3 linked regions of the Homo sapiens genome follow. The protein of the gene in region 2 purifies or fractionates together with the protein of the main gene of each other region. This does not show direct contact. Each region holds a gene or a part of one and is shown on either strand. Other genes may lie near its edges. The genes, in order: FEZ2, KIF6 and SNX16.

Region 1 (3,749 bases), on a different chromosome or scaffold from region 2:
CAAACACAGGTGGGCCTGCACCACTGCTCAGCCATGTTTACAGGCCCCACTCCCAAGGCTGTCTTTACAAGCTTCCTACCTTATTCCTGATAAATCTGTTTGTTTCACAAAGGAAAGGAGACAATCAGGCTGGAAACTCCTTTCCGTGCCCGTGACTCCTGTCCTGTCTCTCAAAAATTCTTCCCTAACCTCTAAGAGTCTCTCCATCCCATCAATGCTCTGAAAATCCATTCCTTCCCATGTCCTCATTTTTGAGACAAAGTCTCGCTCTGACACCCAGGCTGGAGTGCAGTTGTGCGATGATGGCTCACTGCAACCTTCGCCTCCAGGACTCAAGCAATCCTGCCATCTCAGCCTCCGGGCAGCTGGGTCCGTGGGACCACGGGCATGCGCCACCGGACTTCACTAATTTTTTTTTAATTTTTTTGTAAAGACCAGATTTCACGATATTGCCCAGTCTGGTCTCGAACTGCTGGAAGCAAGCCATCCTCCCACCACAGCCTCTCAAAGTGCTGGGATCACAGGTGTGAGCCACCGCGCCCAATCTTATTCCACTCATTTTACCTTCAGCCTCTCCGGAGGCTCCTCTCCCCCTATATACACAACATGCTCAAGTCCCTTTACTCTCACCATTCCTATTTACCATCTTTTGGGGGTAAAACCATGGTACCTAATTACAACTCTTACTTAACCAAATTATAATTGCGGCTCAGGTGGTTTAAAAAGTGCCCTCAGGAACTCTGCGCCTCACCTCTCCCAGCTGTGATAAAACCCCGTGAACCTCCTATCATTGCTCTTAGGTGATTCTGTAATTATTAATATTACTTGTGTATGCCTTGGTCTCCCCACCAGACCATGCGATCGTTACCATCAGTAAGCAGGGCCCTTCGTTTTCGTCTCTGTGGCGGCTCGCACTCTACCAGGGCTCCCGGGTGGGTCCCACAGATTCCTGTGCCCTAAATGCTGCCTCGCACGTTGGTACTTATGCACAGGCAATATACTCCACCTAGAACGTTAGACTTTTTTCCACCTGCCAGGCACACTCCCACTCATCAGTCAGATCTCGTTTGCACATTTCTTTATAAAGTCGTTCCTTACTCTCCCCAAGACACACGCTTTTAAGTCTCTCACATTTGGTACATATAACCATTGCAGCGCTAATTACATCCATACATGTATTTGTTTACAAATCTATCTCCCATCCTACGTTGTGTCCTAAGTGGGAGGGACAGTGCCCAGTCGTTTTGGTGTTCCCTGTGCGAAGCAGCGCCTGGCACTCAGCAGGTGCTTAATAAATGCGACTTGAGTGAATGAATGGCGACACACGTGCCCCAGGAGGTGCCCCAGGAGGTGCCGTCTCTAACTATGGGCTCTGCATGGGCGATTCCCTTCTAATACAAACGAGGGTTTGGTTTGCAGGAAGGAGGGCGGGAGGTACCGAGGCGGAGGTTTTCAGGGCTCGTGGCGGCGGGGGGCAGGGGATTTAAATTGCTGGGCGAGCCGAGGCCGACGGCCGGAGGAAGGAGGCGAGAGGGCGGGGACTCCCGCGTCCGGGCGGAAGGAGGGCGCAGGGAGGAGCTGCGGCCGTAGGGCTGCCGGTCGGGCGAGGGGTAGGGGAGGCTCCCGCCCACTCCCGGCCGGGGCCCCGCACTCACTCGTCCCCCTGCAGGAGGCTGCGCTCCGTGATGGGCCGCACGGCCGTCCTCGGGGGCTCGGCGCCCGGATCCGAGGGGCGGAAGCACAGGCTCAGCTTCTCCTCCAAGCTGCAGGCCGGGGCCGGGAAACCGTCGGCGCCCCCACCCGCCTCGGCCCCCGCCTCCGCCCCAGGCTCGGGGCTCGCGTTACAGTTCTCCTGGTCCAGGAGGCTCCGGGCCGGCTCCTGGAACTCATAGAAATCCTGCCAGTCCCCGTCCGCCGCCATCGCCGCCCGGAGCAGTCGCGCGCCCCGCCCAGGCCGGCCCAGCCCGCCCAGCCCGGCCCCGCCCCGGCCCGAAGCCCCGCCCCCGCCCGCTACCGTGCTGACAGATCCCAGGCTGTCCCAACCCTGGGTCTCCGGTGGCCTGAGTCTTCCTGGAGTTGAACGCGGTGCTACTAGAAAGCCAAGACCTTAACTGCCTTGAGTCACTTCCTATATTCTCTATCATTTAGGAATAACTTCCCTGTTAGCTTCCCTTATTAGCAACTTGGCCTAAATGTGGCTAAAATAAAGGACTTCTTTAAACTTACGACCTAATATCAGATTACGCCCCGAAAGTCGTTTTCCCCAAGGTAACCTGCTCCTTTCCTAACTTGCCAACCAGAATAACAGCCAGAGTCAATGGGAAATGTTTAGGTGGTACCGAAGTTCATTCCTCAAATATTTTACCTCTCACGTGCAAAGCACTGGCTAGATCCTGCAGAACATACAAAGATAATTATGCCAGTTAACATTTGCAAAGCACTTAGAGCAATGCCTAATAGTAGATACCCTATGTGTATGTTATAACTAATACATGGGTGCCCCATACACAGGGCTTACAATGTCGGAGTGATAAGAGTAACAAGAAATTGTTTAGACCTCATAAAAACTAAGTGTGATTGGGCGGTTCAGTTTTGCAAGATGAAAAGAGTTATGGAGATGGATGGTGGTGATGGTTCCACGACAGTGTTAATGTGCTGAATGCCACTGATCTATACACTTACAGATGGTTAAGATAGTAATTTTATGTTTATTTTACTACAATACAAAAAAATTGGAGTAGGCCAGGCGAGGTGGCTCACATCTATAATCCCAGCACTTTGGCAGGCCCAGGTGGACGGATCGCTTGAGGTCAGGAGTTCAAGACCAACCTGGCCAACATGGTAAAACCCCGTCTCTACTAAAAATACAAAATCTAGCTGTCAGGCCTCTGAGCCCAAGCCAAGCCATCGCATCCCGTGACTTGCACATATACACCCAGATGGCCTGAAGTAACTGAAGATCCACAAAAGAAGTAAAAATAGCCTTAAGGATGACATTCCACCATTGTGATTTGTTCCTGCCCCACCCTAACTGATCAATGTACTTTGTAATCTCCCCCACCCTTAAGAAGTTTCTTTGTAATTCTCCCCACCCTTGAGAATGTACTTTGTGAGATCCACCCCTGCCCGCAAAACATTGCTCTTAACTTCACCGCCTGACCCAAAACCTGTAAGAACTAATGATAATCCATCTCCCTTCGCTGACTCTCTTTTCGGACTCAGCCCGCCTGCATCCAGGTGAAATAAACAGCCGTGTTGCTCACACAAAGCCTGTTTGGTGGTCTCTTCACACGGACGCACATGAAATTTGGTGCCGTGACTCGGATCGGGGGACCTCCCTTGGGAGATCAATCCCCCTGTCCTCCTGCTCTTTGCTCCATGAGAAAGATCCACCTACGACCTCAGGTCCTCAGACCGACCAGCCCAAAAAACATCTCACCAATTTCAAATCCAGTAAGCGGCCTCTTTTTACTGTCTTCTCCAGCTTCCCTCACTATCCCTCAACCTCTTTCTCCTTTCAATCTTGGCGCCGCACTTCAATCTCTCCCTTCTCTTAATTTCAGTTCCTTTCATTTTCTGGTAGAGACAAGGGAGACACGTTTTATCCGTGGACCCAAAACTCCGGCGCCGGTCACGGGCTGGGAAGGCAGCCTTCCCTTGGTGTTTAATCATTGCAGGGACGCCTCTGATTATTCACCCACGTTTCAAAGGTGTCAGACCACGCAGGGACGCCTGCCTTGGTCCTTCAC
Region 2 (3,749 bases):
ACTCAGTTTCCTAATCTGTAAAATGCGGAAAATGACACCAACCTTGCAGGGTTCTTGTGAGAATGAGAGATAATGCAGATAAAGCACCTGTCAGGTGGCCATTTCTCAAGATACATAAGAATGACTATGCTCCCTTCTAGGCAGAAGAGAGGATGTTTTGAAATATTTAAGAAGCATAAAAAGTGCTGGGCGCGGTGGCTCACGCCTGTAATCCCAGCACTTTGGGAGGCCGAGGCGGGCGGATCACAAGATCAGGAGGAGATCGAGACCATCCTAGCTAACAGGGTGAAACCCGGTCTCTTCTAAAACCACAAAAAATTAACCGGGCGTGGTGGCGGGCACCTGTAGTCCCAGCTACTTGAGAGGTTGAGGCAGGAGAATGGCGTGAATCCAAGAGGCAGAGCTTGCAGTGAGCCGAGATCGCGCCACTGCACTTCAGTCTGGGTGGCAGAGCGAGACTCCGTCTCAAAAAAAAAAAAAAAAAAAAAAGGTGCATACAAAGTATCATTGCTCAGAGTCAGGGCAATGTCTTAACCTTCTTTATACCTTTCTGAATTTAGCACACTAGAGGAAGCACCTGGTAAATATTTAGTTAATTGTTTCTGAATGAAGTACACATGCGTATTCTTTGGGTCAGGATGCTTAAGCATCTACCTATATCTATTAATACAAGGAGTATATGTAAAGGTTCACGTTTATGTTGGAGAATAACAACAGTCAACTAATTACTGAGGCCCCACTGGGTGCAAAGTACTACATATGTGTATGCTTTGTGCATTTGTGTCTATCTATATTTGTATTATTTCAGAGGTACATAAACACGCATCTCTTGCTTGCACGTTTTGCCCGAGTGCCAAAATGTACCTTTGAGTGTATCTGCATGTGCGGTGCTGCGTGAGTTTCCCAGAAAGGTGCAATAAGTGCTTATGTGTAGTTGAAGCGCACACTATACAGGCATACTGAACATGCACTAGTCTGCCCCCGCGTGAACACGTGTGCCTGGGTGCAAAAAAAATGGCTCTCTGCCGGGTCTGCGCTGTGCCAGGTAGGAGTGGCCTGGCTGTCGGTCGCGTAGCTGACAGCAGTGCGCGGGGGTCTTCGCGGCTGCAGGGCTCCTCGGTCAGTGTGTGCGGGATTCCGGGCGGCCTCGGCGCCCACCAGCAAGCCCCTCACCTCCGCCCAGCCCCTTCGCGTGCCGCCGCCCGACCCCAGCCCAAGAGGCCCCGCCGCGCCGGCGCCCCGGAGGCTCCAGCCCGTACCCCTTGTTGGTGCTTCCGGACAGGGGGCTTCACCCTCGCGAATATCTGGATAGTCTGCTTCACCATCTCCTCCCTGGCTCTGCAATGACCCTTGACCTCTCTCAGGCCCGGGCTGCCAAAACTAACTCCCACCACCTCCGGCGACCCACAGTCTTAGCAACAGTAGCTAGGGACACTACCCAGTGAGCACCTTGGCAGCCAGGATCCCGCCTCCTCCCTCTAATTGGTCGCGACCGGAAGGAGGCCACTACGGGGCGGGGCTAGGGAGGGGAGGGCGGGGGTGGAGAGGAGAGCGCTGCGCATGCGCATGAGCGAGTGTCTGGGCTCTGGGTTTAGCGCCGGACCCGGCCTGGACCGTGTGGTTAAAGGGGAACAACCACCATGCCTTGCCCCGCCCCGCTCATTCACCCATTTTATTCTCCATGCCCTTGCCTTTAAAAAAAAATACAGCACTGGGCCGGGCGTGGTGGCTCATGCTTGTAATCCCAGCAGTTTTTGGGAAGCCGAGGTGGTAGGATCGCTTAGAGCCCAGGAATTTGAGACCAGCCTGGGCAGCATAGTGAGACTCCGTCTCTACAAAAAATACAAAAGTTAGCCAAGCGTGGTGGCGCGCCTGTATCCCAGCTACTCGGGAGGTTGAGGCAGGAGGATCGCTTGAGCCCGGGAGGTCGAAGCTGTAGTGAGCCAAGATTGCAGAACTGCTCCAGCCCACTTGGAGATCACAGTCTGAAGAAGGAGACAGATTTTTTTTTTCCTTCACAAGGTCTCTCAAGTGACAAGGAGACAGATTTTCAACAGGAAATCAAAACCAAGGAATACAAACTATGCCATGATGGAATTAGAAGTGGGGCTAGCTCTGTTTTGGAAAAGGATAAAACTGGATGAAGGGGACTGTTTCCCACACAATGGTCACGGCAAGAAAGGATGAGCTCTTCAAACACTGTTAGCACATGAAAAGATAGTCAACATTATTATCCACGTGGGAAATATAAGTTAAAACCACAATGAGGCATCACTATTCATCTATCAGAATGGCTTAAAAAAAAAAAAAAAAAAAAAAAGTGGCAACACCAGATGCTAGCAAAGATGTGGAGAAACTGAATCAGTTGCACTTTACTGGTAGGAATGTATAATGTAAAACATACACTGTATAAAGGTACAGCCACTCTGGAAAATAGTTTGACAGTTTCTTACAAAACTAAAGGTGCAACTACTCTAAGACACAGCAATTGCACTCTTGGGCATTTATCTCAGATGAATGAAAACGTGTGTTCACACAAAAACCTGCGCATGTGTGTTTATAGTTTTAGCACCTTTATTTGTAATAGCCCCAAACTGGAAAAAAAACCCAGATGTTCTTCAGCTGATAGTTTAAAATAACTGGAATACCATTCAGCAATTAAGAAGGAAGGAAGTGTTGATACACGTAACAAATTGGTTGAATTTTCGGGGAATTATGTTTCATGAAAGAAGCCAGACTCGAAAGCTAACTACCGTATGGTTCTATTACTATTGCCAGGGAGGTGTGCAGGGTATGGTTATAAAAGAAATCCTTGTGATGGGCTGTTCTGTATCTTGACTGTGATGGTGATCACAGAAATCTACACATGTGATAGCATTGCATAGAACAAATTACACACATGTTCAAATAAGCACATGTAAAACTGGCAAAAGTCACATAAAATTGAATAAGATTGATGGATTGTATCAATGTCAATTCCCTGATTTTTATATTGTACTATAGTTATGCAAAACATTACCACTGGGGAAAACTGGGAGATGGGTATACGAGTTCTCTCTGTATTATTTTTTACAAAACAAAAAGTTTATTAAAGACACCCTTTTTTCTTTCTTTCTTTTTTGAGACAAGGTCTTGCTCTGTACCCCAGGCTGGAGTGCAGTGGCATGAACACGGCTCACTGCAGCCTCAACCTCCTGGGCTCAAGCGATTCTCCTGCCTCAGCCCCACAAGTAGCTGGGCTTATAGACATGTGCCATCACACTCAGCTAATTTTTGTATTTTTTGCAGAGACAGGATTTCATCATCTTGCCCAGGCTGGTCTTGAACTCCTGAGGTCAAGCAATCCACCCACCTCAGCCTCCCAAAGTGCAGGGATTACAGCCATGAACCACTGCACCCAGCTGAAAGACACTTAAGAAAACAAAAAGACTAACTACAGATTGGGAGAAAACTTTTGCAAAACACGTATCTTGATAAAGGACTTGCATCCAGAATATATACAAACTGTTAAAACCTAATAATAGAAAAACAAACAATTCATTTGTTTAAGGTGAAGGGAGGGTGCAAAGATTTGAACAAACGCTTCACCAAAGAGGATCTATGGATGGCAAATAAGCACATGAAAAATATGCTCAATATCATTAATCATTAATGAAATGAAATTAAAACCACAATGAGATACCACTACACATCTCTTAGAATGGCGAAAAATAAGAAAATAAAACTGACAAAACTAAGTGCCGACATGG
Region 3 (3,749 bases), on a different chromosome or scaffold from region 2:
ACACTCAAGAATCTGTTATCAAACGGACCAGTATATCTTGTGTCAGAATAGTATCATAACACAAAGAAGAAATGGTTTACTATTACTTTGTTAAATAATAAACTCATAAGAAACTGTAACAACTACAGACCAACAAAATGACAAGACTACACACAACAATAACTGCCCAACTTTTCATACGAAACTCTACTGGTGGGAAAGGTAAGAAATGAGTCACCTGGACTTGGAAAGATGCTGAAATAAGATTTTTAACTCTGGGCTGGGCGCTGTGGCTCACGCCTGTAATCCCAGCACTTTGGGAGGATGAAGCGGGTGGATCGCCTGAGGTCAGGAGTTCGAGGCTAGCCTGGCCAACATGGTGAAACCCCGTCTCTACTAAAAATACAAAAATTAGCCGGGCATGGTGGCGCAGGCCTATAATCCCAGCTACTTGGGAGGCTGAGGCAGGAGAATCGCTTGAACCCGGGAGGCGGAGGTTGCAGTTTGCCGAGATCGTGCCATTGCACTCCAGCCTGGGCTACAAGAGGAAAACTCCGTCTCAAAAAAAAAAAAAAAAAAGATTTTTAACTCAAGTGGCTCTCGGCAACATTTCCCCATTATCAAAGATTCATGAAACTTTAGCTGCTGATTCACCGCTCCTCGGTTCCGCCTGACGGCCTCCCCAAAAACAAGTAAGTCTGAAATCTCAACCTTCTCAAGGTCCGAGGGATCTACCTGGCCTTTGCCACTCTACTACCTGAGGCCGCCTGGCTGGGGGGAGGTCGCATATCAATACATATCAACACAACCACTGACGTCCGAAGATGTGAGCGCTACCCAAGCGTTAAAAAAACAAAACAAGCAAACAAACAAACAAAAAAACGTGCTGTGCTCATTAGGAGCGTCTTCGCCTCTACCCTGATGCGGAGTTGCTCCCAGGACGCTCAGTTCATTCTCACTCTGGAAAACCTCAGGTGAGGTGGCCCGACTCTGAGCAACCCCGTGGGCGGGAGGAAAGAGGCAAATACCAGGCACAGTTCGACCCTCGGAAGGTAAGGCCGGGGTCTGCGCCGGTCACGGGTCTTCCGCACTGCAGGCGGCGAGACCCGCAGCTCCCTGGGATCACAGACTCTCCCGCCTCCGCTGACCGGTGCGCGCCCAGCGCCTCCCAGACGCACAGTGGGGTCGGCGGTGGCCTGAAGGTGGCTGGGCTTCCTGCGGCGCCTCTCCACTCTCCCGCGGAGCCCCTTGCCGCCCGCCAGACATCAAGGTTGCAGGTGTCACCCGTACGAGAACCCGGGACAGCGACCGCCTGTCCTGAGGTAATGACCCAGTCTTTACCTCAGCCCCCTCGGCGATCCCGAACGAGCGCGCTTCCCGGTGACGGTTAAACCGGACTCTCCTTAACCGCAGCTTTTCGCCTCCTCCCTCAGCAGCGAGAAGCCTCACGTGACACCCCCGCCCCAAAAGCAGCTGCTCCCCGCCTCAGCCAGTCTCTGCCCGGGCCCAAGATCCCTGCTGTGTGGAAGGAGGGGCCGAACTGGGCGGGGGGGGGGGGGGGGGGAGAGAGAGAGAGAGAGAGGGAGGGAGGGAGGGAGGGAGGGAGAGAGAGAGAGAGAGAGAGAGAGAGAGAGAGAGAGAGACAGAGACAGAGAGAAAGAGAGAGAGAGAGGGCAAGAGCGAGAGACAGAGAGAGAGAGAGAGAGAGAGAGAGAGAGAGAGAGAGAGAGAGAGAGAGAGAGAGAAAGAGAAAGAAAACGAGCGAGGGAGAGAGCGAGAGCGAGAGAGAGAGAGAGAGAGCGTCACACACACATCTCTGCCGGAAGTGATGTCACGGCATGGGCGCCCGCCCACCGGAGGAGCGACTGGAGTTGATCGGCTGGGCGCTCAGGTAGCGAAGATAAATGTAATCTTGTGGCAGGAAATCGACATTCTCTGCACTATCTTTAGTTTTCCAACTGAACTTCTGAGAAATGGAGGCTACAATACCTAGTTTGCCAAACAGGAGAAGACTACAATTCCCAGAAGGAACTGCGACCAACATTGGTCCGTGCTCATACTTTGCATCATGGGACTTGTAGTCATCACCAGCTTGCGCTGATTCTAACAGGTTATAGATTGTTTTCTAGAATTAGCAGCGCTTTAAGGGATGACAATCGATTAGAAGAGTAGGAAGATAGAACACTGCTTAGTAGCTGATCCGTTCTACATAATTCAGAAGTTCTCATTGGCAGAGAACCCCTGAAATTCTGTAGTGTCTTTTTACTATCCGGTGAGCAATTTGATCCCGATGATGGAATATTAGCCTTGTTAGACATGCGCTTCTGAAGACCTGTGCAGTAGGGAAAGCCGAGTTTTTTGATAGGCAAATCCCAAGATTCAGACCGGTCTACAGGTCTGTTCATCATTAGAATCAGATAATGTGGTTGAAAAATCATTCCACGATTTCTAAGGCTTTTGTATAGTCCCAATGTTACCCATGGAGGGTCTTGACTACAAGTCATCCAGGTTCTTGGTTTTTTTAACAAAGAATTGGACAAAACGCACAAAGAAAGCAAGGAAAGAATGAAGCAAGGAAAGCAGAGATTGAAATGACTGTACACTCCACAGAGTGGGAATGGCCTCCAGCCAGTGGCTCAAGAGCCCTGGTTACAGGATTTTCTGGAGTTTAAATATCCGCTAGAGATTTCCCATTGGTTACTTGGTTTACACCCTCTGTAAATTAAGGAGTAGCCTGCAACCAATCAGAGGCTAAAGTTAAGTTACAAAGTTGTACTCCTATGGAAATGAAGACTAGGCCCAGATACCAAGGGCCTAGAAGGTTGGGCAGGGGGTTGCAAAGGGAATAGCCTCTGGTCTTTTTGTTACTTGGGCTTGGAAAGTTGGAGTTTTCCTTTTGATTTAGTTCTAGGAAGTCAGCGTGAATGGGCCTTAGGTTCCCTGCCTCCGGACCCTATTCTACTGCCCGACTAAGAGTGAGAAAAGGTGATAGTGGTCATTTTGAAATGAAGGTTGGAAAATAGTCTGGTTTGTGACATGATGATGGTTTTGGTTTAAGAGATTCTGCCCTTTTAGTGTGAATGAAATAAAAATAGAATTCTGTAGAAACAATGTTAGGTAGGAGAATAGGGTCTGGAAACAGGGGACCTAAGGCTGATTCATGCTGACTGATATCAGAGGCGACTCCATTTTCAACCCCTCTTTTTTCTGCGTGGCAGTTGCTGCGTGGCAGTTGCAACCCTCCTTTCTTTGGGTGGCAGTTGAAAAATGAAAGAACCTCTGATAGAGCCCCTCCCTCAACCAATCAGACTGGTTGAGGGCCTACTTTTCACTCTGATTGGTCTCCTTCCACAACCAATCAGACTGGGCATAGGCCAATGGGAACCCTCTAGAGGGTATTTAAGCCCCAGAAAATTCTGTAGCTGATGCTCTTGAACCCCTTGACTGAGTCTGTTTTCCTTCTGTGGAGTATACTTTCATTTAAAATAAATCTCTGCTTTCCATGCCTTGTTTGTGTGTTCTGTCCAATTCTTCGTTCAAAACACCAAGAACCTGGACAACTACCCTCAATTGGTAACATATTTTGGTGAGCCAGCCAGAAGGTAAGCCCAAAGTTTGGGATTTGTATTTTTCTTTTTCCTCTTTCTCTCTCTCCCTTTTCCTTTCCAAGCTGGGATCCTTGATGGACAGTGCCTAAGCATGGAGGCAACTGCAGGTTTCTGGCCAGGGCCACTCTCTGGTGAAACTAAAAGGTCCATGTGGAAGCACCT

What was found.
Region 1: the proteins of KIF6 (region 2) and FEZ2 purify together in Homo sapiens (affinity purification with mass spectrometry; 3 studies listed by BioGRID and IntAct, with this or other methods). This does not show direct contact.
Region 3: the proteins of KIF6 (region 2) and SNX16 purify together in Homo sapiens (affinity purification with mass spectrometry; 3 studies listed by BioGRID and IntAct, with this or other methods). This does not show direct contact.

The regions. Positions count from the first base shown.
Region 1 is NC_000002.12:36,596,222-36,599,970, forward strand, and holds the start of FEZ2 (fasciculation and elongation protein zeta-2), read right to left. Parts: upstream 1,948-3,749; 5' UTR 1,922-1,947; coding exon 1,656-1,921; intron 1-1,655. UniProt on the Homo sapiens protein: Involved in axonal outgrowth and fasciculation.
Region 2 is NC_000006.12:39,723,986-39,727,734, forward strand, and holds the start of KIF6 (kinesin-like protein KIF6), read right to left. Parts: upstream 1,424-3,749; 5' UTR 1,326-1,423; coding exon 1,260-1,325; intron 1-1,259.
Region 3 is NC_000008.11:81,840,802-81,844,550, forward strand, and holds the start of SNX16 (sorting nexin-16), read right to left. Parts: upstream 1,385-3,749; 5' UTR 1,321-1,384; exon of another isoform or gene 737-1,320; intron 1-736. UniProt on the Homo sapiens protein: May be involved in several stages of intracellular trafficking. Plays a role in protein transport from early to late endosomes. Plays a role in protein transport to the lysosome. Promotes degradation of EGFR after EGF signaling.